Linked DNA regions of Homo sapiens: all the other regions are linked to region 2. The links come from fine-mapping of genetic effects on gene expression. A gene starts in region 2. Each other region holds a variant in brackets. All regions are shown on one strand. Distances are between the middles of the regions.

Evidence for each region.
Region 1: its variant is fine-mapped to the expression of DDX18 in T cells (TOPMed, PIP above 0.99). The same link has a PIP of 0.9 or more in fibroblasts.
Region 3: its variant is fine-mapped to the expression of DDX18 in whole blood (INTERVAL, PIP 0.96).

What each region holds. Positions count from the first base shown.
Region 1 is chr2:117,845,283-117,851,738 of GRCh38, forward strand. No RefSeq gene overlaps it. Among named protein-coding and RNA genes, the nearest start is that of DDX18, 34 kb to the left of the region's middle. The variant C/T (reference allele first, on the strand shown) is at 3,553.
Region 2 is chr2:117,811,017-117,817,472 of GRCh38, forward strand. DDX18 (DEAD-box helicase 18) reads left to right here and starts at 3,675. Exons shown (of 14, transcript NM_006773.4): 1 at 3,675-3,846; 2 at 6,428-6,456. The coding sequence starts at 3,762. RefSeq lists enhancers at 3,437-3,731, 3,459-3,996, 3,542-3,671, 3,802-3,851, 3,872-3,921 and 1 more.
Region 3 is chr2:117,767,525-117,773,980 of GRCh38, forward strand. No RefSeq gene overlaps it. Among named protein-coding and RNA genes, the nearest start is that of DDX18, 44 kb to the right of the region's middle. The variant T/C (reference allele first, on the strand shown) is at 2,643.

The DNA.
Region 1 (6,456 bases), 34 kb after region 2:
TTAATAATTAAATATGAGCCACAGTGAGATACAAGGAACACTGACTGAGATGGCTATAATTTAAAAAGAAAAGAAAAAATGGAAAATAACAAATGTTGCAAGAATGTGAAGAAATTGTAACCCTTATACACTGCTGGGGGAGTGTAACATGGCACAGCCACAGTGGAAAACAGTTCACCAGTTCATCAATAAGTTAAACATAGAATTATCATATGACGCAACAATTCCACTCCAAAGGAAATGAAAACAGGGACTCCACCAGATACTTGTATGTCTATGTCTTTGCAGCCTTATTTACAATAACCAAAAGATGTAAACAGCCCAAATGTCCATCAACAGATGAATCCAGAAATAAAATGAGGTTTATATATTCCAACGGAAGATGAAAAGGGATGAAATTCTGACACATGCTACAAGATGGATGAACCTTGAAAACACTTTGCTAAGTGAAAATAGCCAGACACAAGAAGACAAATACTATACAATTTTACTTAAAGTATCTAGAATAGGCAAAACTAATAGAAAAATAAAGTTAATTAGAGGTTACCAGGGGTTGGGAGAAGGGAAAATGAGGAGTTATGGCTTCATGGTTAGACAGTTTTTGTTTGAGGTGATAAAAAAAAGTTTGGGAATAGTAGTGGTGGTTGCATATGTTGTGAAGGTAATTAATGCTGCTGAATTGTACACTTTAAAATGTTTAAAATGATAAATTTTATGTTTATAAAATGTAATATGTATATATGTGTGTATATATATACATATATATATATGTAAAACCACAATAAAAAATTAAATTAAATACCGCTCTAAGCATCCTGATGCCCAAGGCAAAGCGGGGAAATGAGGCTTCCATGCTAACAAGTTCAAGGCTGCTGGCTCTTGTCCCCATGGGCTAGATACCCTCCAACTGAGGACAGTTCTGATACCAACTGCGTCCTAGTCGCACACCAGATCTGCAACCCTATTCACACCCTTTGGTCACAAGTTATAGCGACTGTGCATGGCTCAGGGCAAACCATTTGCCTTCATGAGAAAGAAACTCAGAGTGAGGGGGTGTGGCCTCCTTGTTGAGGTCAGTTCATTTTACCCCAAATATGTGAAGTGGGATAATTTGGGAAGCAAGAGTGAAAGGGACAGATATGCTCTGGGCCTTACCAGGCGACAGCACTTTTGGTCCATTGGAAGGATGGGGTCTGGAAGCCCCTGGAGCCTCAGATTCCAACTACCCACTCCTACCCCCATCTTCCCTGTTTAAAAGTTCCATCAGGCAGAATTGAGCTCTCTTTGGCAATTCCAATTAATCTGGCCAATTCCCTCGAAATGTTTGTTCTTGTCCTTCTCCATTGCCCTTGCCTGGGTCCTTGTTCCTTTCACTCCCCGCTTGGATCCGTGGAAATTGTCACCCAAAAGGTTTCCTCCCTTCAAAGTAATCCCAGCACTAACTCATCATATAGACTGCTGGTAAAATAATACTCCTGCACACACAAATGCAACAGGAAAAGTCTGGTGGTGCCGTCAAGCAGCCTCTCTCAAACTCCCATCATAATGTGCCAACAGCCGGGAGGGGGAGGTGTCACTGCAATGGAGCTGTCGACAGTTGCTAAAACAGCCACACACCTTGTGAGACTTGAGTCACTGTTCTATTAGGTTGGTGCAAAATTAATTGCGGTTTTGCAAAACCACAATTAATTTGGCACCAACCTCGAATGTTGTAATACTCTACAACAAAATGAAAATGTAGTAATTTTCTTAAAAATAAGTAAAATTAGGAGTGATTGTTTCAACTACTGGTATCAACTATGATCATGAAATCTCTGCCACCCAGCCTAAACAATTATTCAGCATCACCTCCACCTAAATAACATTCAAGTCCCTCTTCTGCACCACTATGTCTCATTGTTCCTCACTGCTTGGGGGAGCTCAGGCATCTCAACCTGGCTGTCAAAATTCTTCCAAATCTAACTAAACACCATCTAGCTTATCCAAACCACATGTCTGCTTTGCCCACATAAAACTCGCCGTATCACAAACTAAGGATGTTCATTTTCAAATTGCTTAAGCAATTCCCTACCTAAAGTCCTCAGCGTTGTTCCTCCTCCTTTTCAATTCCTACTACCCACGAACAACAGCTCTCACTCCACCTCCTCCAGGAAGCTTCCCCTGACTACTCTCTCCCATTGATTTTTTTCCCCATAAATATGTTGTTTGAATGGAATGCTAAGTGATGACCTTTCATTGGTCACCATCTTTTATCACGATGGACCTGTTGAGTGTAGATTTCTTTTGTCCATTGAATTGTGCCTTCTTTATCCTACCTCATCATGATTCTTGTAGGTCAGGTTCGCTAGGACACAGACACTGAGACGGGGATTGGTATGCAGGGAATGTAGGAAGATTTGGGCCAAGGGGGAAGCTGAGGCATGACAGTTTTGACAAAAGTCACAGCTAACCCCACTGGGAAGTTGTGAAGCTGATCAGACCCTTCTGAGCCTCAAGTTGGGGCTGGGGCCTGGGCCTTTATATGCTGTGTTGATCATGTCTGAGGGCTGCTCCTGGAACAGGCAGCAGCCTTGTGTGAGGTGATTCCAGAAGAGGCTGTGTGGTGAGGTGAAGGCTGTTTGTGGAAGCTTTCCCAGCAGCCGAGAAGGGGAGTGATACGGTTTGCCTGTGTCTCCACCCAAATCTCAACTTGAATTGTATTTCCCAGAAAGGGACCCAGGGGGAGGTAATTGAATTATGGGGGCCAGTCTTTCCCGTGCTATTTTCATGATAGTGAATAAGTCTCATGAGATCTTATGGGTTTATCAGGGGTTTGCACTTTTGCTTCTTCCTCATTTTCTCTTGCCGCCGCCATGTAAGAAGTGCTTTTCACCTCCTGCCATGATTCTGAGGCCTCCCCAGCCATGTGGAACTGTAACTCCAATTAAACCTCTTTTTCTTCCCAGTCTCGGGTATGTCTTTATCAGCAGCTTGAAAATGGACTAAAACAGGGAGGGAGGGACAACTCAGTCCTTCAGTCCTGAAAGGGGGATCTTGGTGTCAACTATGATGGCCTTAAAAAAAAGAGAATGAAAGGAAAGGAGGAGAACGGAGGAAGAAGAGGAAAGACAGGAAACATCCATCACACTTGTTTGTCAGGTCTTATTTGGAACAGAGTGTGCCAAGGCAGTCACTCCCTGGAGGAGAGAGGCAAGCTGCAAGAAGGCCATGGGGACAATGTGCAGAGCAATGAAGCCTCCTGCCCATAGTGACTGTACCCGCGACCTGGTGGTGACCAGGCAGGCATTTGCACCTGCTGGGCTCCAGAGCTCCCCTTCTTTCTTCACTCGGTGACAGCAAACCAAGACTTGGGTCACATCATTTCTGGGTAAGTATGCGGAGATGCTGAAAGAACAGTGGGAGCAAAAAGAACAAGAATCTTGAACGTCTTCTGTTTTCTCTATGACCCTTAGAAACCCAAAGAAAATTTCACAGTAGGAAAATAATCCATTGCACAAACTGTATTTTTAAAGGTGAGAGCTGGCCGGGCGCGGTGGCTCATGCCTGTAATCC[C/T]ACCACTTTGAGAGGCTGAGGTGGGTGGATGACCTGAGGTCAGGAGTTCAAGACTACCCTAGCCAACATGGCAAAACCCCATCTCTACTAAAAACACAAAAATCAGCCGGGCATGGTGGCGCATGCCTGTAATCCCAGCTACTCAGGAGGCTGAGGCAGGAGAATCACTTGAACCCAGGAGGCGGAGGTTACAGTGAGCTGAGATCGCACCATTGCACTCCAGCCTGGGCAACAAGAGTGGAAACTCTGTCTCAAAAGAAAAAAAAAAAGTGAAAGGTACGTTTGCTTAGAGGAAGGGGATCCAGAGACTGGATTTCTGTAAAGTCCAGAAAAAAAGTTCAGATTTTGCAAGATAAAAACCATGTGCCTGGAATGTGCTGGAATCAGAAATTATAAACATCAAAGAAACTCTGAGGAGGAGGCGTGGTAAAGACTCTCTCCTACCACCCATAGGAAATCAAATTCCAGCAAAGACAAAGATCAGTACAGGAGAAGAAAGCCTGGGCGGAGAAAACGAGGGAACCCTGACGGAACCTGGGCAACTGGAAAGTATTACTCCTTCGAAATTCTGAAGTTCATTTACAGCTGCCAGTCAGCACACCAGGGAATCAGAAACCACCAGAGCCTTTCTCTGCAGCTGGAGAATTTGAATTCATTTCAGAAACTTCCTGGAGACGAATGAAAGGCAAGGGCTTCCAGAAATCAGAATACCTTCTGCCCCAGGGTCTTGGGCAGAATTGCCATTTTCATCACAGCACGTGAAGTAAGATAGTGAGTGAGGGGTTTTTCTTAGAATCTATACTTAAACTCATGCATTTTTCAAAATATTTCATGCTTTTCTCTAAAACCTTATAGCTATCATTCACTGACAAGCAATGCATGGGTAAGATATTTCTTTATGGCCCTCTATTGTCATCCTATTAATCTAGACATTAAACTTATAAGTATCATCTTGTCTTGATTTATTTTTCTAATCTATACTTTTCTCAATGATGTGTTTCCTAATTGACATTTCCAAATTACGAGCCTTGGGGTTCTTTTAATCATTTTGGTTTTTAAGCACTTTTTTATTTTGCTTCTCCGAAGTTAGTTAGAAATTGCAACTACTGGTTATTCCAGGGCTGATGGTTCAGTTACAGGCTCTGGGGCTAAATCCCCTGGTCCTGGCTACCCTGAACTTCACGCAGCTCTGAGTAGGGGAGTAAATTAGCCTGCAGGGGGAATGTGGGTAATTCTCGACCTCATTACAGCCCTCCTTTCCAATTTCGCCTTCCTACGAGCAGCTTAAAATGCAGAAGAGATCAGCTGAGACACACACTCTCCTCCACGTGCTCCCTCTCCCTCCCCACCTGATCCTGCTTCTATCCCCTCACCCCTCCTGATGAGGGAGGGAGGAGAGCACAACAGGTGGAAAGATGAGCCAGTGAGAATTTCAAACCCAGCGGAGTCCCCGCCCATGGGATGTGACCTGTTTGTACAGGATTCTTGCAGTTATTGGGTGGTCTTTATTATCATTGTTGACTCTGGGAAACTTTTCATTCTTGACCCAGAGTCTTCATTAGAGATCTTTTCATGAGAAAAAGGGCATTTTTAAGAGCTGAGGTTTGAATGCATGGAAATTTTTAAAAACTACCTTTGGTCATGTGAAAAGAAAGCAGCTGGCAGGTGGTGGGGGAAGGAGCCCATCTGCTAATTAAAACTCCAAGAGTAGTAGGAGGAACAACTACTCTAAGGCACTATCTTTCCCCACGTTCCTGCAAACAAATTAGCTTCAACACCCACACACAGTAGGAAAACAAATGCCAATTATGCCTCGATGTTTCCTTGAACCTGTTTTCTTTTCCCTGTCTCCAACTGATCCTTAACACTGCTTTGATAGTGGGCTGGAGATAAGCCCATTGCTTATCTGGAGAAATGATTTCCACCCACTTTTATTCTAAAGCAAATCCGCAGCACTGAGGAGGCTGGGACCAACATCAAGCCCAGATCCGTTTCCACACATAGAGCAAAACTCTTCATTTTGGTTGAGTACCAACAATAGTAGTTTATAACATAGGAAAGGAGTGTGCCTTTAATTATTGTATTTCAGTGTAAAACATAATCAGAGGTTAAAACAGTTTTATGAAGGCAGATAACATTATGGCATATATTAATGTATAGAGGATGCACATCCATTTATTTCCAACTGCAGATATAATGGGGTACCTGACTGGGACTAGATCAAATGATTTTGGCTTTATTCTTGGTTGCTTCCCAGTTTTGGCAAGTACGCAATTATGAATAAATATGCTACAAACAACGATGTGCAGGATTTTTTGTGTATATAACTTTATTTTCTCCATATGATTTTCTAAAATCCTGGTGGAGACAAGCAGTGGGTGAGGAAGAAAGATGGCTAAAGTTGCAGGCACTTTTTCAGTTTCTCTGGAGGCAGAGGTCTGAATTTCACCTGTGATGTCAAGCAATTTCTTTGTCTAAGCCTTTTGGTAATGCCAAAGTAAAGCAGCAATCCCTTCTGGAACAGAGAGGTTTAGGAGCAACAAGGAGGGAAACAGGGCTGCTTGGCCCCATAAAAGAGCATTTCCCTATATGTGGCAGGCTTCTCTGTTCATCACATTCCCTTTAGGGGAAAAAAATTTCTCTAAATGTGGATTTAGACTATCCCTAAAAAAATTTTGCTTGTTTCCCAGAGGGGTGTGTGTGTGTGCATGTGTGTTGGTGTGTGCACACCGACTTTCTTGTTCAGGAACTCACCCGTCTGTGTGGTTAGGAGCAGAATGAAGCTATGAAGGGAGCAGGAAGGATGAGGTGGCATGTCTTCATGACATGCTCTCTTTTTTAAACTTCACACCAGGTATCCTGGCAGATTTAATAACTCTGACCTCAGGAAAGTTCCCTCTTTTG
Region 2 (6,456 bases):
ATGCTGTCCTGCCCTCCCACCCATCCCTCTTTATTATATTGCATTGTCTGGTTGTAATGTCTTCCCAGCATTTAGCTTCATGCAAAGGTATCTTGTTCAATCACAAGGTTTACTTATACCTGTCGTCTCTTATCCAGGCTGTAATCTCCCTGGAAATGAGGACTTTTCCTGTCTTGTTTACTGCTGATCCCTGAGGCCTAAAACAGTACCTGGAATGGATAGATGGTATTTTTTTAAATTAATAAATGAATAAACTTCTTGACAGAAAAGTTTCTGTTATATGTTTCTGTATCCTCTCCAGCTCCTAGGACCACTGCAATAATGACTTGTCATGAATTGTGGTGATGCTCTTTAAAATAATCTCTCACTCTTATGTCCATCAGTTCACTGAAGAAAACCTTTCTTAAGTACCAGCCATCTGCTTTCTACAATGTAGAAATACACAGAACCAGATGCTGGTCCAGGAAAGTCAGGTAATGTGAAGGAGGCAACATCATGCTTATTTACAATAACATAGCACTTTTTAAGTTCCAATACACAACAGAGTGGTTAACCTTATAGAAAATAGCATTTGAAAGTTCCTAGAAAATCACTTCAAGAGTCCTAATGCAGTGATCCGAGAGGATGAGTCAGTTATTTCTGGCTCACAATTCTATGATGTTGGTGAAATAGATTGATTTCTTTTCCCAGTGAAGTGGGACGTTTTTAATTTGAATGACAAACTACACAAATCTGCGTTTTATTTTACAAACACTTGTCTCAGGTTTAAGGATCTCAAGTGAAAACTGAAAAACAAAACAGCATGAATAAGACCTGTTCTATGTTAAACTTAATTATTTTTAGTCAGGAGGTAAAAGACAGAAACTCCTGGCCAGGTGCGGTGGCTCATGCCTGTAATCTCAGCACTTTAGGAGGCTGAGGCGGATGGATCACCTGAGGTCAGGAGTTCGAGACCAGCGTGAATAACATGGAGAAACCCTGTCTCTACTAAAAATGCAAAATTATCTGGGTATAGTGGTGCATGCTTGTAATCCCAGCTACTTGGGAGGCTGAGGCAGGAGAATCACTTGAACCCAGAGGCGGAGGTTGCGGTAAGCCAAGTTCGCGCCATTGAACTCCAGCCTGGGCAACAAGAGCAAAACTCTGTCTCAAAACACACAAACAAACCAACAAAAAAAAGACAGCAACTCCCTTCCTGCTTCTGCCTGCTGCTGGCTCAGTCCCTATGCATAATGAATATTGAATGACAGACTCCATCCCCAGACCCCTTCCCAAGGCTAGGATGTTGCTCCTGTGATGTGCTTCCTTTTCACTGCATTCATCATAGTTTACCATAATCGTTTAATTTTCTGTCTTCCTTGTAAGCTCTGTAAGCTCCACCTAGGCGAGCCAGGTCTATCTTGTCCACCATTTTATACCCAGGATTTGGCACATGCCTACCACACACTCTTAGCACAAAAATGCTCAAAAAATAGTTGCATAATGACTATATTATGCGATTGTTTTATGGCGAATGACCATATTCTGAAGAGAGAGACCTCTGTGATGGAGAGCCCAAGCAAGAAGTTTTAAAGACTGAAACGCATTCTGAATAGATACTGGGATAGGCTCCAGCTGTGAAGAACAACAGGCTTTTCAGAAGCACGTGATTGTTACCTCATCCTCACAGGTAATTTTTGAGTAGCTAACCCAATGACATTGTTTTCTTTGCTAGAGTAACTGATGATGTGGCCTTGGAAATTCACTCTGTTAAAAATAACTCTCAACCCTAATTTTGAGAGTTGATTTGAAGTTATAATTTCTCATTCTTCTTCTAAAAATCCAGAAGAATTGGCATCAGTAGCTTTATCTATGTTTCTTAAAAGGTTATCAATCCCTAACGTTAAGCATTTCCATGCACCTGAAAGGATCGGCTTCTCTGATCTAAATGTCTTAAACACCTCGTAAATGTGGGTTTTTTTGGTTTTGAGGAAATGACTGCCAATCTTCACTACTAGCTAGAAAAAGTCACACTCTAGAAAAAAGGGAGTACCTTTCCATTACTACTACCAAAACATAGCCCCACAAATTTAAGTTACAACATAAAAGAAATAACAAATTTTGAGCACTTTCTATATATACTTCAGTTGTATCTATTTCAAAGTCACAGACCCAAAACTCACACATGTAATCAGGTAAATATATATGTATGTACATAGAGCTATAGAAATAGATACATATGTGTATATGCATATATATACTGATATATGCATAAATTTAAACTGGCATATATATTTACACTGAGATAAATGTTTGCGTGTGTGTGTGCGCTCTTACATTTCTGAATCATTCTTCAGCCTGCCTGATCATTAACAAATTAATCTAAGCACATTATTATTTGTTTGTCTTAGTTTTCCAGTCCAATCCAATGTGATTTCGAAGTCAATTCCTTCACATTCTGTTTAAACTCCCTCCCAAGTTTTCTCCCTCTCTGTTCCTCACTATGATCAGGTCTAATCTCCAGGGTCTCATGTTCTGCCCCTCCAAGTAAACAAATTAATCCAGGTTTCATGGACTCTTCCAGTTGTTCAGCTCAAATTGATTACTGTTAAGGGGAATTTGAGGGCATTGGGCCAATTTTTAAAGACAAATATGAATTTTTATGGAAATCTCCAAGTATTTTAATGTTGATAACAATTTTTTTAAAAATTAAATACTATATGCATACCCCTGTCTTCCTCCCCATCCCAAAAAAGAGATGACTATTAGCTAGCCACATTGCAATTTCTGTCCTGGACTGCTGAAGGGTCCTTGGGTATACTTAAGGAATATATAAACCTCTTTTTCAAACTGCAGTCAACCTATTATTAATGTAGTAAAGTTAATTTAAATTCATAGGAATCAGTATTTTTAGTAAGCTAAAAAGAATAATTTAGGATGGAATGAATGGAATTGAAGGAAAAAGAGTGAAAAGCAAGAATATTATTTTGAGAAATGTTATATTTATGTGTGTATGTGTACCAAGTGACACAGAAATTGTATTTCTGAGGAGAGTGGCCAAACAAGTTTGGAAATGCATATATATAATTTAGTTCTATTCAGTTTCCCAAATACAGTTGTCCCTCAGTATCCACAAGGGATTGAGTCCAGGACCCTCTATGGGTACCAATATCTTAGGATACTCAAAACCCTTATATACAATAGTGTAATATTTGCATTTATTTTACACACAACATCCTGTATACTTTAAATCATTTCTAAATGACTTATAATACCTTATACAACCTAAATGCTATGAAAGTAGTTATCACACTGTATTATTTTTAATTGTTTTTTTTTTAATGTTTTCAATGGGGGAGTTGGTTGAATCCACAGACAGGGAATTCAGGTACAGGGAGGGCCAACTCTAGTTCTGCACCCACAGAGGATAGGAACATAAAAATGCGGACTCCCTAAGGCCTCCTTCCCCTCCACGTTCTTTCTTCAGTCTTCCTCTAGGGGGAGCTCAAGTTAGCTTTAGCACAGTGTGAAGCCAGTGCAGCGTCTCGCTTCCACTTCTCCAGGGGGCGCTGCAAAGATTTTGGTCGCCAAAGATATCACGGTGCGCGCGTCTGGAAGCATTTCCGCTCTGGAGCATTTTCGTTCCGCCGGGTGCCAGCGTTCCTGTGACGCGTTTCCTGTTGGCCGAGCTGCGCACGTGCGGCCGGAAGGGAAGTAACGTCAGCCTGAGAACTGAGTAGCTGTACTGTGTGGCGCCTTATTCTAGGCACTTGTTGGGCAGAATGTCACACCTGCCGATGAAACTCCTGCGTAAGAAGATCGAGAAGCGGAACCTCAAATTGCGGCAGCGGAACCTAAAGTTTCAGGGTGAGATGCGTTGACTCGCGGTGGCTCAGAAGACCCACGCGCGAGCCCTGGCGCGTTCGGGCGGCCGGGGGCCCAGCTGCTCTGTGTGACGGAGGCAGCTTCCCCTGCAGCGTGTGTGATTGGGGAGAGTGAAAAGGCAGCTTCCACTCGGGACCCGCGCTGCTGCCCACTCGTCGCGTGGCTCCAGCGCTGCTCCTGACCTTTCTGAGCAATCAGTGTCTTCTTACAACGTTAGAGCGGGAGGACTCCCCGTTCACTTCTAGGCTTACGACTAACCCTGCCTTTTGCATTTCCACCTTAGCTTTTGGTTCCCTCACCACCTGCAAGTCGCACCTCACCTCATCCCTCATTTCCGGTTATGCTGCATGAAACGTCTCATTTCCACCCACTTTTCACATCTATTTAATTCCCGTATTTCTTTCCCCAAAAGCCCGTCTGGCTGTTTCCACAGAGCTTCTTTGATACTATTGCCTTCCTCTACCCACTTCCACACGTTCTCGTAGCACTTTCTCACCAGAGCTTCTACGTATTTGTGTCCCGCACAGTGACCTAAATGAAAAGGATTTTATCTGAATGTCACCTTTCTTACCTACCTCATTTGCAGTCCCAGTGTCCTGACAGTGGGGCCACAGATCTTGAAGTAATTGTGTTAACCTGTTGTCCAGGTTAAGATACAAACTCCCCGAGGGAAAGTTTGGAGGCACAGTGCCTTGCCCCAGTTGGTTTTCAACAGACATTAATTGAAAAAAAATTCTGCAGGAGGCAATAGGTTTGTGAATTTTAGGAATATGTTTTGAAATACTCTTGTATTTCTAATTCCTATAGAATAATACTACAGCATTACTACTTTTCAGCGCATATGTAAGTAAATTTGAACAAAAGATGGTGTTTTATCTTTTTCAGTAAACAAACAGGGAACCTTTGGTAAGGACATTCTCAGGTACAGTCATGCATCGCATAACAGGAGGGGGGATACATTGTGAGAAATGTGTCATTAGGGGCTTTTGTCGTTTTGCGAACTTTATCTAGTTACACAAACCTAAATCTACTACACACCCAGGCTACATGATATAGCCTGTTGCTCGTAAGCTGTCATCCTGTACAGCATGTTACTGTACTATACTCAGAGAATTGTAACACAATGGTAAGTGTATGTATGGCTAAATATATCTAAACATAGAAAAGGTACAGTAAAAAGACTATGACATGAGAGATTTAGAAAATGGTACCTCTGTATACAGTACTTACCATGAATGGAGTTTGCAGGACTGGAAGTTACCCTGAGCGAGTCAGTGAGCGGTGAGTGAATGTGAAGGCCTAGAACATTACTGTACACTATAGACTTTATAAACACTGTACACTTGGGCTACACTGTTGAGTTTTTTAATACTTTTATTCTTAAATTAACCTTAGCCTGCTGTAACTTTTACATTATAAACTTGTTAAATTTTAACCTTTTGACTTTAATAACACTTAGCTTACAACACAAGCACATTGTACATACAGCTGTACAAAAAGTTTCCTTTTGTCCTTATTCTATGTGATTTTTATTTTATTTTTTTTTCTTTTTAAGCTTTTTGTTAAAAATGTAAAGACACAGACACATTCAGTTTCACTGTCTTCCGCTTCCACATCTTGTCCCACTGGAAGATCTTCAGGGGCAACAATAGGCATGGAGCTGTCATCTCCTATGATAACAGTGCCTTCTAAAATACCTCTCTCCCTGAGGCTCTTTTACAGTCGACTCATTTTTTTTTAATAAGTAAAAGGAGTAAACTCTAAAATGATGATCAAAAGTATAGTAAACACATAAACAAGTAACATAGTTTATTATCACGTATTATGTATTGTACATAATTATGTGTGCTGTACTTTATACGACTGGCATTACAGTAGATTTGTTTATACTAGCATCACTACAAACATGAGTAATATGTTGCACTACGACATTGCAGTTACTGATGGCACTAGGTGATAGGAATTTTTTAGCTCCGTTATAATCTTATGGAGCCACTGTATATGTTGTCCTTAATTCACAGAAATGTCATTGTGCACGCATTACTGTATTTGCATATGATAAATATTGGAGCAAATAAGTGGTCTTATCAACTGAATTTTCAACTCACTGCAGTCTAGAAGAGTTGGGGTTGAATGTTTTGAAGTGGTATGAAAAATAGTACTTGTGTGAATGAGTTGTAAATGTCTTTTTCAATATATCAGTTAATCATATGTTTATCAAATACTTATGTTTATTCTGTAACTGCCATTATCTGACCTCATCTGTTTAAATATTTGACCTCATTGAAGTTTTCCTGTCCTAGACTCCTTAAAGTCAGATGTACGGTCTTTTGCAGTTAAGAAATCAATATAGCTTTCCCTTTTCCAGTATTTTTTCTTTAAGATAACTTACTTTCCCTATAAGGGAACACCATAAAACTATAAGTTGTTTTAATTACATGAAAGAGAAGAAAATCTAAATAATTTGTGTCAGGAAGCCATGGAAGTTCTCATTTGGGATTTCAGTGTTTCTAAGTAAACTTCTCCTTCTTTGTCACAGTATATGTTCTGTTTATTTAAACAGGGGCCTCAAATCTGACCCTATCGGAAACT
Region 3 (6,456 bases), 43 kb before region 2:
TTTAAAGTAGTTTTTTCCAATTCTGTGAAGAAAGTCATTGGTAGCTTGATGGGGATGGCATTGAATCTATAAATTACCTTGGGCAGTATGGCCATTTTCATGATATTGATTCTTCCTACCCATGAGCATGGAATGTTCTTCCATTTGTTTGTATCCACTTTTATTTCATTGAGCAGTGGTTTGTAGTTCTCCTTGAAGAGGTCCTTCACATCCCTTGTAAGGTGGATTCCTAGGTATTTTATTCTCTTTGAAGCAATTGTGCATGGGAGTTCACTCATGATTTGGCTCTCTGTTTGTCTGTTATTTGTGTATAAGAATGCTTGTGATTTTTGTACATTGATTTTGTATCCTGAGACTGCTGAAGTTGCTTATCGGCTTAAGGAGATTTCGGGCTGAGATGATGGGGTTTTCTAGATATACAATCATGTCGTCTGCAAACAGGGACAATTTGACTTCCTCTTTTCCTGACTGAATACCCTTTATTTCCTTCTCCTGCCTAATTGCCCTGGCCAGAACTTCCAACACTATGTTGAATAGGAGTGGTGAGAGAGGGCATTCCTGTCTTGTGCCAGTTTTCAAAGGGAATGCTTCCAGTTTCTGCCCATTCAGTATGATATTGGCTGTGGGTTGGTCATAGATAGCTCTTATTATTTTGAGATACGTCCCATCAATACCTGATTTATTGAGAGTTTTTATCATGAAGGTTGTTGAATTTTGTCAAAGGCCTTTTCTGCATCTATTGAGATAATCATGTGGTTTTTGTCTTTGGTTCTGTTTATATGCTGGATTACATTTATTGATTTGCTTATATTGAACCAGCCTTGCATCCCAGGGATGAAGCCCACTTGATCATGGTGGATAAGCTTTTTGATGTGCTGCTGGATTCGCCTTGACAGTATTTTACTGAGGATTTTTGCATCAATGTTCATCAAAGATATTGGTCTAAAATTATCTTTTTTGGTTGTGTCTCTGCCCAGCTTAGGTATCAGGATGATGCTGGCCTCATGAGTTAGGGAGGATTCCCTCTTTTTCTACTGATTGGAATAGTTTCAGAAGGAATGGTACCAGTTCCTCCTTGTACCTCTGGTAGAATTTGGCTGTGAATCCATCTGGTCATGGACTCTTTTTGGTTGGTAAGCTATTGATTATTGCCAGAATTTCAGATCCTGTTATTGGCCTATTCAAAGATTCAACTTCTTCCTGGTTTAGTCTTGGGAGGGTGTATGTGCCGAGGAATTTATCCATTTCTTCTAGATTTTCGAGTTTATTTGCATAGAGGTGTTTGTAGTATTCTCTGATGGTAGTTTGTATTTCTGTAGGATCGGTGGTGATATCCCCTTTATCATTTTTTTATTACATCTATTTGATTCTTCTCCCTTTTTTTCTTTATTAGTCTTGCTAGCAGTCTATCAATTTTGTTAATCCTTTCAAAAAATCAGCTCCTGGATTCATTAATTTTTTGAAGGGATTTTTATGTCTCTATTTCCTTCAGTTCTGCTCTGATTTTAGCTATTTCTTGCCTTCTGCTAGCTTTTGAATGTGTTTGCACTTGCTTTTCTAGTTCTTTTAATTGTGATGTTAGGGTGTCAATTTTGGATCTTTCCTGCTTTCTGTTGTGGGCATTTAGTGCTATACATTTCCCTCTACACACTGCTTTGAATGTGTCCCAGAGATTCTAGTATGTTGTGTCTTTGTTCTCGTTGGTTTCAAAGAACATCTTTATTTCTGCCTTCATTTCGTTATGTATCCAGTAGTCATTCAGGAGCAGGTTGTTCAGTTTCCATGTAGTTGAGCGGTTTTGAGTGAGTTTCTTAATCCTGAGTTTTAGTTTGATTGCACTGTGATCTGAGAGACAGTTTGTGATAATTTCTGTTCTTTCACATTTGCTGAGGAGAGCTTTACTTCCCACTATGTGGTCAATTTTGGAATAGGTGTGGTGTGGTGCTGAAAAAAATGTATATTCTGTTGATTTGGGGTGGAGAGTTCTGTAGATGTCTGTTAGGTCCGCTTGGTGCAGAGCTGAGTTCAATTCCTGAGTATCCTTGTTAACTTTCTGTCTCGTTGATCTGTCTAGTGTTGACAGTGGGGTGTTAAAGTCTCCCATTATTATTGTGTGGGAGTCCTAAGTCTCTTTGTAGGTCACTCAGGACTTGCTTTATGAATCTGGGTGCTCCTGTATTGGGTGCATATATATTTAGGATCAAACTTGTATTTTTAAACTCCAAGCTATTTACAGAAGACAGTTTACATCCAGAGCAGCCCAATGGTGTATGTCCTAGTTGATAAAGGAATTCAGTATCTGGAGATGTCAGGCAAAGTTCCAGTGAGGAAGGAGCACTAAGTGACTTTAAAAAGATAAAGAAGAAGAAGAAGAAGGGGGAAAGGGAAGAAAACCTCCCTCGTTCCTGAGGAAGCAGGACATAAAAACCACTGTGGGGTCACCCTGGTAAAGAGGGTACAAATGAATGAAATCCCTTTCTTTCCATGGATAAGTCAATAATGTGGTGGGTTTTCTTTCCAGGATAGAGGACAGAGAAGAAACCAAAGAGTTATGTAGTCAAGTTGTTGAATACTTTTAGCTGAGTAATATTGCCAGTGAGGGTTACAAACATGCTTTGATTTTCTCACAGACATTAAAAAAC[T/C]ATATTTAATCTAGCTTGGCTGCAGTAGAGTGGAGTAGATAGAAAAGGGGCACAAGTTTAGTGACCTCGCACCTGGCCATGTCCTAGAAAAGTGGTCAGATGGATAATGTACAGAGTAAAGCTCACTGGGTATAATACACAGATGCAGGCAGGAGACCAGCAACATGTACCTGAGAGGCAAATTTGACCCTTGGTCAGCCAAATTAAGACTTCTAGACCCAGAAGTTCTAGGGTGGTGGACATAATGGACTTGCATGGTGTGATGCTTAATTTTATGTGTTAACTTGACTGAGCCACAGAATGCCTAGATATTTGATGAAACATCATTTAAGCATGCCTGTGGGACTGTTTCTGGGTGAGATTAATGTTTGAATTGGTAGACTTAGTAAAGCAGATTACCCTACCTAATGTAGGTGAGCATTATCCAATCCCTTGAAGGCCTGAATAGAACAAAAAGAATAAATAAGAAAGAATTCTCTCTCTCTCCATCTGACTATCTTCAAACTGGGACATCAATCATTTTCTGTCTTCATACTCAAACTTAGATTGGAAATTACACCATCTACTCTCCTGGGACTTCAGCTGACTGACATCAGATCTTGGGACTTCTCAGTCTTCAAACCATGTGAGCCAATTCCATACATACAAACATACACACACACACACACACACAGACACACACACACACACACACACACCCTGTTGGTTTCTCTGGAGAAGCCTGACTAATATGCACAATGACCCTTGAGTGCATAAATCAGGTCCCACCAAGACAAACAAGTCAAGAGAGAGACAGATACAGACAAAGTAAACAAACAGAAATAGAGCAGACATACAGATACAGAGCAGCAAGACACACAGAGACAGAAAGGAACAGAACAGACAAAATCAAAGACAAACAGGCAAGACATCAAGAGAGCAGACAGACACAGAGACGTATACATAAACAGAAACAAAAACATAGACAAAGATAGAAAATGAGAAAAAATACAGTATTTCATGGTGTTCTCTGTGATTTCCTCATAGAGCTTTATTTCAGTGTTTCAGAAAGCACATCTAAGGAGAAGACAAGCCACATATATTTTAATCACACCTCTACCCTGTCTGAATCTTCTGTCAAATGTACCTGTCAGCGACTTACCTGAGCCGACTGCACAGTACCCAGGAAGAAATGATGAGCTCGGATATCTCACAGATACTCAGATACTAACCTGAAACTGCAAGAGAAGACTGAGACCTGGTCTCACCTTTGCAGATAACACTGTGTAAAGACAGCACACTGTAGACTGGGCATCTAAACAAGCTGCCAACTAGAGTCACCTGGGGAGCTGGCCCATGCCAGACCAATTAAATCAGAATCTCCAGGGCTGGGGCATTGGCATGTTTTTAAAGTACCTCAGGGAACCCAGGAAGCAAAAGTAGTTCTGCCATTTAAGGCCATATTCCTAGTTTGCATAGTTTAAACTTGAGTGAGAGCAACACAAGTGGCCAGATTTGCTGACATTTTTTTACCTGGGCACAGGACAGTTACCACTTGAAACCCATGAGGTCTACTTTCCATGCCACTTCCAAACCCCAAAAAGCATGGAATAATCACAAAAGCATGTTGTCACTGGGTAACCAGGCTAAATGCTCTACATATATCACCTCATTTAATCTTCACAGCATCTTGTGATGTAGAGATTATCTCCATTTTCCAGGTAACAAAATTGAAATCAGTGAGACGAAATCGTTTACCAAGGTTAAATAGGTAGGACGCAGCTAAGGCAGGATTTGCAACCAGATCTTCTGCTCTGCTGCATGGAAAACACACTGAGAGGAGACTCTTCGGTTTAGTCCTCTCATGCTTTGTGATGTCTCCTGCACAGATGGTGCTGACAATGAAAACCAGCATTGCCTTCTGCCAGAGCACAGGGCCACACACAGGAGGCACCTGGGACTTCTGTCTCAGTGACTTTATTCTGACCTCGCCAACTGTACAATACACTGTCACTTAGCTTAGCCTTGTCTGAGAGAAGACACAATTAGAGCAAGAGCCCACCAAGAGTAAGAGAGGGTGTAGGAGCTTAAGCTTCTTCATTGACTTTAATTAAGCTCACCAGAGAAGTAGATCGCAAGGGATCCCACAGAACTTTTTTTTAAAGTTTTATTTATATTATTCTTAATTCCAATTTAATGGAAAAAAAAATGTTTCCATTCAAACCTCTTCCACCAGTGTAGGGTTTTCTCTATCTATTAAGAAACAGTGCCATCTACTGACTCGTTTTCACTCTGGTTCTTGTAAACCAGGAAAAAAAAATTAATGTTGCTTATGCCTTAATTTTGAACACTTTCCAAGACATGTCCTTCCTTTCAAAATATCTGTTCTGCAGTTAAACCCATACATATTATTTTATTTCATAGCCACAAATGACAAATGGGTTTGGAATTAGACTGGGACTTTCAAGTAATATGTCTTGAAAAATGGAGTCTACAAATCAAGACTTTGTAAGGTGGGGCACCCAGATGGCAGGTGTTTAGATGTGAAGCTAGGAGGCCAAGGTGCCCTGCACAATGGTGACCTCACCTGTTCACCTAAGCCTGCTTGGGGGCTGTACAGCCAACCCAGAAGGGCATGAACCCTACATTCCAAAATATCAAATACCGAAGAATCAACTTGAAACTAGATACATTTTGACTGCTACACAGAAAAATGATAAAATATTACTAAGAGAAATTAAAGAATATCTAAATAAATGAAATTGGGGATTTCAATCCAAGGAATTGAACTGAATTGATTGAATGAAGGGATTTCTCAATACAAGGGACTCATTCACAACAAGGGTAAAATAGCCCCGAAAGGGAAAAGTGTTAGGTTTTAGGATGATAAAAAAATCTTCTTATATGCAAAGCAAAGATATACAGTATACCTGTGGTATTAAAATTTCACAGTAGGAGAAGTTAGGGAAAAAAGTAAAAAAAAAAAACCGGGGGGCTCCTTCAGTTTCAGGGGGAGCATAGGAAAAAAATTGGAAAGAACTGGATAGGAGGTTTAAAGGTTTAATATTGTAAACATGTGAATCCTTCCAAATGATCTATAGATTCAATGCACTTCTAATCAAAATCCCAACAGGGTGTATGTCTGTGCATGTGTTTATGGGTGCACACTGTGTGTGTGTGTGTGTGTGTGTGAGAGAGAGAGAGACAGACAGAATTGATAAGCTGGCAGTAAATGTGTATTGAAGAAAAAGGAAAGGTAAAAGGTGCTCGACCATATATCAAGGCCTATGATAACATTACAGTAATTAAGACAGCGTGGTACTGGTTCAACAATAGGCAAAGAGACTGATGGTATAAACTAGAGAACCCAGAAACAGATTCATGGACATTTGAACGGTGGTTCACAGAACAGTGGAGAAAGGACTGTCTGTCAACGAATGCTTCTTAGATTTCCATATGAAAAAAATTAAAGCCAACCCTTAATTCATAATTTCTGATGGACTCTAGACATAAATATGAAAGGCAAATCAGCAACGTTTCTACATCAGTGGTTCTTAAAGTGTAGTCTCCAGACAGTGTTAGCATCACCTGGGAACTTGTTAGGAATACAAATTCTCCAGCCTCACCCCAGACCTGCTGATTCAGGAAGTCTGGCAGTGGGGCCCAGCAAGCCATATTTTGACAAGAAAAGGCTTCTTAAACAAAACACAACTGTAAAGAATAAGATGTGTAAATAAAAATGTAGAATTTCTGTTCATCAAATGATAGCATGAAGAAAGTAAACAAAAAAAGCAAGCCACAGGGTGGAGGAAGAAACTCGCAAATCATAACTGAC